3 separate regions of the Homo sapiens genome follow, and regions 1 and 3 are each linked to region 2. The links come from fine-mapping of genetic effects on gene expression. A gene starts in region 2. Each other region holds a variant in brackets. All regions are shown on one strand. Distances are between the middles of the regions.

What was found. PIP is the estimated chance that this variant, and not a neighbour inherited with it, causes the effect.
Region 1: its variant is the best candidate, but not a certain one, in a credible set for the expression of PICALM in fibroblasts (GTEx, PIP 0.66).
Region 3: its variant is the best candidate, but not a certain one, in a credible set for the expression of PICALM in whole blood (INTERVAL, PIP 0.83).

What each region holds. Positions count from the first base shown.
Region 1 is chr11:86,119,058-86,121,822 of GRCh38, reverse strand. No RefSeq gene overlaps it. Among named protein-coding and RNA genes, the nearest start is that of PICALM, 51 kb to the right of the region's middle. The variant G/T (reference allele first, on the strand shown) is at 1,324.
Region 2 is chr11:86,067,795-86,070,559 of GRCh38, reverse strand. It overlaps PICALM (phosphatidylinositol binding clathrin assembly protein), which reads left to right and starts at 1,476. Exons shown (of 20, transcript NM_007166.4): 1 at 1,476-1,909. The coding sequence starts at 1,780. LOC124902731 (a long non-coding RNA gene) reads right to left here and starts at 636. Exons shown (of 2, transcript XR_007062823.1): 1 at 1-636. RefSeq lists silencers at 962-1,231, 1,382-1,551, 1,692-1,741, 1,812-1,861 and enhancers at 487-1,686, 1,426-2,127, 2,128-2,765.
Region 3 is chr11:86,187,735-86,190,499 of GRCh38, reverse strand. No RefSeq gene overlaps it. Among named protein-coding and RNA genes, the nearest start is that of LINC02695, 4.4 kb to the left of the region's middle. The variant C/G (reference allele first, on the strand shown) is at 1,298.

The sequences.
Region 1 (2,765 bases), 51 kb before region 2:
TGGGCCACTGCATTCCAGTCTGGGCAAGAAGAGTGAAACTCCATCTAAAAAAAAAAAAAGGTGACCTTAATTGAAGACAGGGTCTTTACAGAGATAATCAAGTTTAAAAGAGGTCATTAGGCTGGACCCTAGTGCAGTATGACTGACATCCTTATAGGACTAGCAATTGGGATACAAAAACACAGAGAGTATAAAGGGAAGATGATGTTAGAGGCATAAGGAGAATATAGCCATCTACAGGTTAAGGAGAAAGTCCTCAAATGGAATACCCTTGCTGACCTCTTGATTTCGGACTTTAGACTACAGAACTGAGAGACAATCAATTTTTGTTGTTTAAGCCCCTCAGTTTGTGGTACTTTGTTATGATAGCTCTAAGAAACTAATACATTTAGTACAGTGTGTTAAACATAATAGCCTGTGTTAACTATACTTAAAAGGATAAAGGAAGGAGTAGAGAATAAAACTCAGGGGAGAGGGAGCAGCAGTACTCAGGAGAGGGCATGAAATGGCAGACACAATTGGGAACAGTTTCTGGAGTAGCAAGCAGTGGTCTATGGGAGTCTCAAATGAAATAATAAAGGTGATATTATTTTGTATTAAAAATACTATAACTAAGGGCAGTTATCACTATGACTTTTGACGATATCATACCCCCAAATATGTACCAGCTACCGAATGGAAAAACTACTGATACAACTAGTTCATAGTGATCATTCCTGTGTTTGATCACCTGAGAAGCATTAATGGGGTTTATATTAACTTTGAATATGTTAAAAATTAAAAGGTTTATATTAACATTGACAGTGTTGAAAAGTAAAGGGTATATATTAACTTTGACAATGTTAAAGATTAAAGGGATAATCTTTGACTATCTGCATCAACAACTGAGGGACAAACATCTTGACAGAGGATTCATATGAGTGGCAGAAACTACATCTTGCCTTGCAAATAACTCTCTATATTTGAATGCCACACATTGTTTGTTTCTAGAATCTCTTCCACTGAAATGTTACCCTAGATATAGATAAGGGGCACCAAAAGGCCAGAAGTATGAAAAAAGAAAGGATGAATAGAAGAAAGGAAAAGAGAGAGGAAGGAAGGAAGGGAGGCAGGCAGGGACATGGTACTTTTTCTTACCCCAGATCCAAGTTCCAACTCTTTTGAAACCCTAATATTTGGTTTCAGATGATACTGGATATTTTCTAAAGTAGCCAAATTTTTAGGTTATTTGACAAACATTGTGGTTAAATTATTAATATGGGATAAAGATATTATTTAATAGTAATTTGCAAAAATCAATGCTTCTTTAGTGTCCTCGTTTTA[G/T]GGTTTATTTCCAAAATTTTTGAAGCAGCATTCCATTTCAGAAAATGACATGAAGATTCTCTGGAGGTCTAGGAATTATGTAGATGGAAAAGAAATCTGATGACACTATCTTGACCTTTTTAATACTAAGTAATACTAACATAATAATAACAACAGCTATTCCTTTATTCTAAGGGTTTTCATTTTAAAGGCTTACTGTTATTCATTTTCAATGCATAGCTCCTTATTAATTATCATTTTCTAGGGCTATGTGGATGACTTGAGTTCTATTAAATACCAAATGATTTCTCACGTACCTAAGTTTGGAATCTACCTCTTTTAGTAGGCAGAAATTACTCTCCATGAGAATAGTGTCCAGGCAGTCCCAAGGAATGTAATTGTCCTTCTTTCTTGCTGATGAATAACTGCTGATGCTTCTAGTCCCAGGTACAGCTAGGAAAGAAAATGATGATGTATAACTTCAATAGCTTTCCTGGAGCAGGGAGCAGGGGATAGATTAAGTGTCCTTCTACATTTGTATATGTGCAAGAAAAGTACCTCATATTGTTTCCAAGGAAATGTTTAATAGGTTTTTCCTGGCCTGGGATAGTCCATGTATGGTATATACTGTCTTTACGTCCCAAAATTTTCTGCTAAGCATTCTGATCTCTGTACTCCGTGAAGTCATTTTTGTGAAGAAGGCCTTAAATGAAATCAATGGCTGGGCAAAGACTGTGAGAATGTTTGAACCAGTTCTTTATGATTTTTTAAAATTTTATTTATTTATTTATTTATTTATTTAATTAATTTATTTATTTATCTGAGACAGGGTCTCACTCTGTCGCCCAGGCTACAGTGCAGTGGCATGGTCTCGGCTTACTACAACCTCCACCTCCTGGGTTCAAGCAATTCTCCCCCCTTATCCTCCCGAGTAGCTGGGATTACAGGCACCTGCCACCACGCCCAGCTAATTTTTGTCTTTTTTGGTAGAGATGGGGTTTCACCATGTTGGCCAGGCTGGTCTCAAACTCCTGACCTCAAGTGATCCCCCACCTCGAACTCCCAAAGTGTTGGGATTACAGGCATGAGCTACCGTGCCTGGCCTTGAACCAGTTCTGATGTAATGCCTCTTGCAGGAAAATCCCAGGAGTTTTTGGGATGCTTGTTTCTGGTTCCACTACAAAACATCACAGTCTTAGGTAGACTTAATACAAGTGGACATAATTATGCAGCCCTGTTCCACATCATTAGTGAGAGTAAATGCCTCTGCCAGGATTCTGCCAACACTGTTTCTAGCCAGACATCCATTAGTAAACATTGCAGTCTTAAAATACTGGTTGGCTTCTGTGCCTGGGCTGTCTGCATAATGGAAACTAGGTCTAGATTTTTTAAAGTATCAACACGGATAAGCAAAGAAATGCTGTTCTCTAAGGGATGTAGTTAGAAATTTGGGGAACCCAGAA
Region 2 (2,765 bases):
ACTTGTGTGTTCTTGGCAAGAGCATGTTGCTGCAGAATTTCACCAGCCATAGTGGGGAAAAAAGAGGGGTGAGGGGGCGTGGGGAAAATGGGAGACCACAAAATTCCTGATATGATACATAAAATGTTAAATATCTATCAGCTTTGCATCCTTTGAGAGTCACCAGATTGAAGCACAGTATTTTGGATTTGGCTGGCAGATGGTGTACACAGACTTTCTGAGAATGTTAGCATTTCATTTGAAACTAGCAAGATTACATGTGACTATCATGGTAACTTAGCACTCACATATTTTTCAACTTATCCCTAACCCTGGGTTGAATGTAGAGGCTCTAATAACATATAAAAGGCTTTGTTAATGTATGGTCTGGGTCTCATTGAATAGTATTTCAGGATGTAATACTTCTTTTAAAATGTCCACAGGGCAGTGTCAACGTCTTTCCATGGAAATCTGGCTCACCCAATAAGAGAAAAGAGGCCAAAGGTAAGAAAGACTAAACCAGGGGAGATGGCAGGCAGTGATGTCTGGACTGTTTGAATGGGACTTCTCCATTTACCGCCCCTCTCACTTCCTTCTATGGTCTGGACCTTTAATCACCACAGCAGTCAGCCATGTAGGGTCAAGCTAATCGCTGTTGACATCATCCTACTACTTCCCTTTTCAAATTCCAGTGAAGCTATGTGTTTCCTGTCCTATTCCACACCCTAGAGAATGAATACCGGCCAGCTAGTATCTAAATTTAGAATGGCAGCAACGTGTCGGGTTTTCGGAGTAGAGATAAACAAAACCAGGTGACATTTCCAAGCCTCTCAAGGAAAGGGGGGAAAAAACCTTTCTGGGGTAAGTAAATAAGGAGAGCTTCAATAGTTCCATGGTAGAGAGAGGCCTGCTGGAAGGTTCAGAAAATAGGCCGTTTGGAACCTTCTCCTTTAAGCCAGGAGGGCGGCTTTGGGAGGCGTCTTGAAATACATTCTTGACTCTGCTGGGAAAGCTCGGGGAGCCAGAGGCCTAATACCCCCCACTTCAGGGGAAGCTGTGAAGGCAGCTGCACCTCCTTTGTCAAGCTGTTGGTTTCAACCACAGACACGAGGACACACTTGAGGTGGGGGGATAAGGGGAGAAGCCTGCCGCCCCGCCCCACCCCCGCCAGCACACCGCCCTCGCCATTCCTCTCCCGCCCCGCCCCGCCCGGCGTCTGTGACCCCGCGGGCCGAGCCTCAGGCGACCTGTTGGCAGGGAGAGTCACGTGATGCGCCGGCTGTGCACTCCCCTCGGGCGGGCCTCCTGTTGCGCCCGCCTGGCGAGTTCCATCACGTAACGCGCGGGCGCCGCCCAGCTCTTCCCTCGCTGAGCGAGGGAGGGCGGGCGTCGAAGAGGAAAGGGAAGGGGAAAGGGGCGGGAGAAGGGAGGAGGGGCGGTGTCCGAGTCACGTGACCCGGGGCAGCCCGGAAAGCTCCGAGGAGGAGCCTGGCGCCGCCATTTTCCTGCAGCTGCCTGTTCCTCTTACCCTGCCCGGCTCCAGCTGACCCGGGAAGGGGTGGGCTGAACTGAGGCGGGGGCAAGGGAGTGCCCGACATCTTGTCCGACTCCGCGGGTGACACGAGCCGGTTCTCTCTGGACTGGTGGCAGCGCGCGGCCCCGAACCGCGCCCCAGGCCGGCAGGCGGGGAAGGAGCCGGTGGGGGTAGGGGGTGCGGTGGGGGGTGGGGACCCTCCGGCTCTTGGGGGTCCCAGTCCCCGCCGGCTGCTGAGCGGGTGGGGTGGTGGAGGAGCTGCAGAGATGTCCGGCCAGAGCCTGACGGACCGAATCACTGCCGCCCAGCACAGTGTCACCGGCTCTGCCGTATCCAAGACAGTATGCAAGGCCACGACCCACGAGATCATGGGGCCCAAGAAAAAGCACCTGGACTGTGAGTGAAGCCGACCGCGGCCCCCGCTCCCCGGCGCCCGCGCGACCCGCGCGCGTCCTTCTCTCTCTCTCTTGTCTTTCACCCTTCTACTGCCTCTTCCCTCCCTGCGTCTTCTCTGGCACGGCCGGTCCTGTGCCCGTTGAGCTGTGTTCTTTTGCTTCCATCACACCTGCCTTCACGGCCTCCGCTCCCCGTCTCAAAATCTGACAAGCCACTCCCCTCCCTATTCCTAGGGGACCCTCGTCTCCCTGCCCGGTGCGCTACCACACCCCATCATACCCAACCAACTTGCTTCCCCACCTGGCTTCTCACCCCCTACCCGTCTCCACTGCAGCCTTCTGCTCTTCCTTCCCACCCGTCCGGTGCCGCCTCGTCGCCCTCGTCTGAGCGTCTCCAAGCCCCATTGTTTCTTCATCAGCCTCCTTCGGGTTTCAGTAAACGCCTGGTTCCTTGCATCCAGATCCTTGTTATCCCTCCGGGCTGCCTCCCTGGAAGGGATCCCCCACTTCCTTTGCTCCACTAGCTGCTTCGCCCATCCCTTCCTGGCTTTCTGTTCCACCTTCCCTCCTGCTTTTGGGTTACCTTTTCATCGCCTCTATAGTAGCTTCAGTGTAGTTTCTTCGACTCATTTTAAATACCATACCCAGTTACCCGACTTTTATTTCAGATTACCTTCTTTGTGGGAGTGAAAGTAAAAGGATTCAATTTGGTGTAGGGAAAGCTTTCTGGAAAGTTGGGATTTTTATTTGCCTCTGGTGGAATTTAATCGTTGTGTTGTCCATACTTTTGACTGGGGTGAGTTTGTGACTGTCAGCTCTGCCCCCCAGCTTTTCACATGGGGATATGGAAAAAGGCA
Region 3 (2,765 bases), 120 kb before region 2:
ACAGGCGTGAGCCACTACGCCCTGCCCAAACCCAGGGAATTTCTTTAAGCTCCATCTTCTGCCTTTTGCTATGGCCCTAGATTCTCCTGCACTGCTTGGCTTTTTTGGATGGATGGCTTAGAGTAACAGCTGATGGCTGTTAAAATATTGTGAGTTCACCAACAATGAAAGAAATACAAATCGAAACAGCCTAAGATTGTTAAGATTCAGGCCAGGTGTGGTGGCTCACACATGTAATCCCAGCACTTTGGGAGGCCGAGGCAGGCAGATCACCTGAGACCAGGAGTTTGAGACCAACCTGGCCAACATGCTGAAACCTCATTTCTACTAAAAAATACAAAAATTAGCTGGATGTGGTTGTGCATGCCTGTAATTCCCAGCTACTGGGGAGGTTGAGGCAGGATAATCACTTGAACCCAGGAGGAAGTGGTTGCAGTGAGCCAAGATCGTGCCACTGCACTTGAGCCTGGGCAACAGAGTGAGATTCTGTCTCAAAATAAAAATAAAAAATAAGATTCTATCATGTACCTATACCTGATATGGTTTGGCTCAGTCACCACCCAAATCTCATCTTGAATTGTAATAATCCCCATGTGTCAAGGGCCGGGCCAGATGGAGATAACTGAATCATGGGGATGGTTTCCCCCATACTGTTCTCATGGGAGAGAGTAAGTTTCATGAGATCTGATGGTTTTATAAATGGGCGTTCCCCTACACAAACTCTCTTACCTGCTACCATGTAAGACATGACTTTGCTTCTCCTTTGCCTTCTGCCATGATTATGAGGCCTCCCCAGCCATGTGGAACTGTGAGTCAATTAAACCTCTTTTCTTTATAAATTATCCAGTCTCAAGTATGTCTTTATTAGCAGTGTGAGAACAGACTAATACAGTAACTATATCATTAATATACACAAATAAAGCAACAAAGCCTTATGTTGGCAGAGGCTGTGGAGAGGAAGGCAAGTGCAAACTTTGCTGATAGCATTTTAGGTACAGTCAACTCTTCTGCAGACTAACCAGGGAAGCAGTACATGAGCTGTATGTGCCCTTTGTTCCACTTTGGAACATACCTCAAGGACATAAGCTAAAGGAAAAATGTAGTAAGCAGTGAAGATTCTAGTACCACTATTTATAATGGCACAAAATGAAAACAATCCAAGTCCTGAGCTTTAAAGTAATTTTTAAATAATATCCAACTAACTGATTTGGAACGCTGTGTAACCATTAAAAATGATAACCAAGTGAACATGGAAACATATCTATGAAATAATGTTGAGTGAAAAAAGCAAAGCACA[C/G]TAAGCGTCAGTGAGGGCATAGGAAAGTGGGAACCCTCAATATATTGTTGGTGGGAATATAAAATGGTACAGCCACTTTCGAAAACACAACCTGGAAGTTCCTCAAAAAGTTAAAAATAGAGTTATCGTTTGACAATGTCACTCCTAAGTATATGCCCAAGAGAAATGAAAACATATGTCCACACAAAAACTTGTACACAAATATTCATAACAGCACTACTCATAATAGTCAAAAGGTAGAAACAACTCAGATGTCCATTGGCTGATAAAATGATAAGCAAAAGGTGCTATACTTACACAATGGAGTATTATTTGGCCATAAAAAGGATAAAGTAGGTACATGCTTCAGCATGGATGAATCTTGAGAACATTATGCTAAGTGAAAGAAGGCAGTCACAAAAGACCACATGTTATATAAAACCATTTCTATGAGGGAGGATTCAGATGTGATAGTAAAAGGTACAGGGTTTCTTTTTGAGATGCTAAAAATGTCCTCAAATTGATGTGGTCATGGTTATACAACTCTGTGAATATACCAAAAACCACTGGATGTACACTTTAAGTGGGTGGATTGTATAGTATGTGAATTATATCCCAATAAAGCTATTACAAAAATTTTTTAAAATCATTAAATGGTATGTTTACAGTGGGTAAATTTTATGAAGAAATATATAACATACATACAAAAACTTCAATAAAGCTTTTTTTTTTTTTTTCTGAGACGGAGTCTCACTCTGTTGCTTGGGCTGGAGTGCAGTGGCGCAATCTCGGCTCACTGCCAGCTCCGCCTCCCAGGTTCATGCCGTTCTCCTGCCTCAGCCTCCTGAGTAGCTGGGACTACAGGCGCCCACCACCATGCCTGGCTAATTTTTTGTATTTTTAGTAGAGACGGGGTTTCACTGTGTTAGCCAGGATGGTCTCGATCTCCTGACCTCGTGATCCACCCGCCTTGGCCTCCCAAAGTGCTGGGATTACAGGTGTGAGCCACCACGCCCAGCCAAGCTATTTTAAAAAAAAAAAGAAAAAGAAAAGAAAAACACACTTGGGTGCGGTGGCTCACGCCTGTAATCCCAGCACTTTGGGAGGCCAAGGTGGGTGGATTACCTGAGGTCAGGAGTTAGAGACCAGCCTGACTAACACGGAGAAACCCCGTCTCTACTAAAAATACAAAAAAAATTAGCCGGGTGTGGTGGTGCATGCCTGTAATCCCAGCTACTCGGGAGGCTGAGGCAGGAGTATTGCTTGAACCCGGGAGGTGGAGGTTGCAGTGAGCCAAGATCGTGCCATTGCATTCCAGCCTGAGCAACAAGAGCAAAACTCCATCTCAACCAAAAAAAAAAAAAAAAAAAGAAAGGAAAGAAAAGCACAAACTAGTCACTGCTTTGTATGCATCTATATTTTTATAAAGTAACAAAGGCTGGAAGATACTGGGAGTCAGTGAAGGTATAACAGAAAGACACCAGATCTG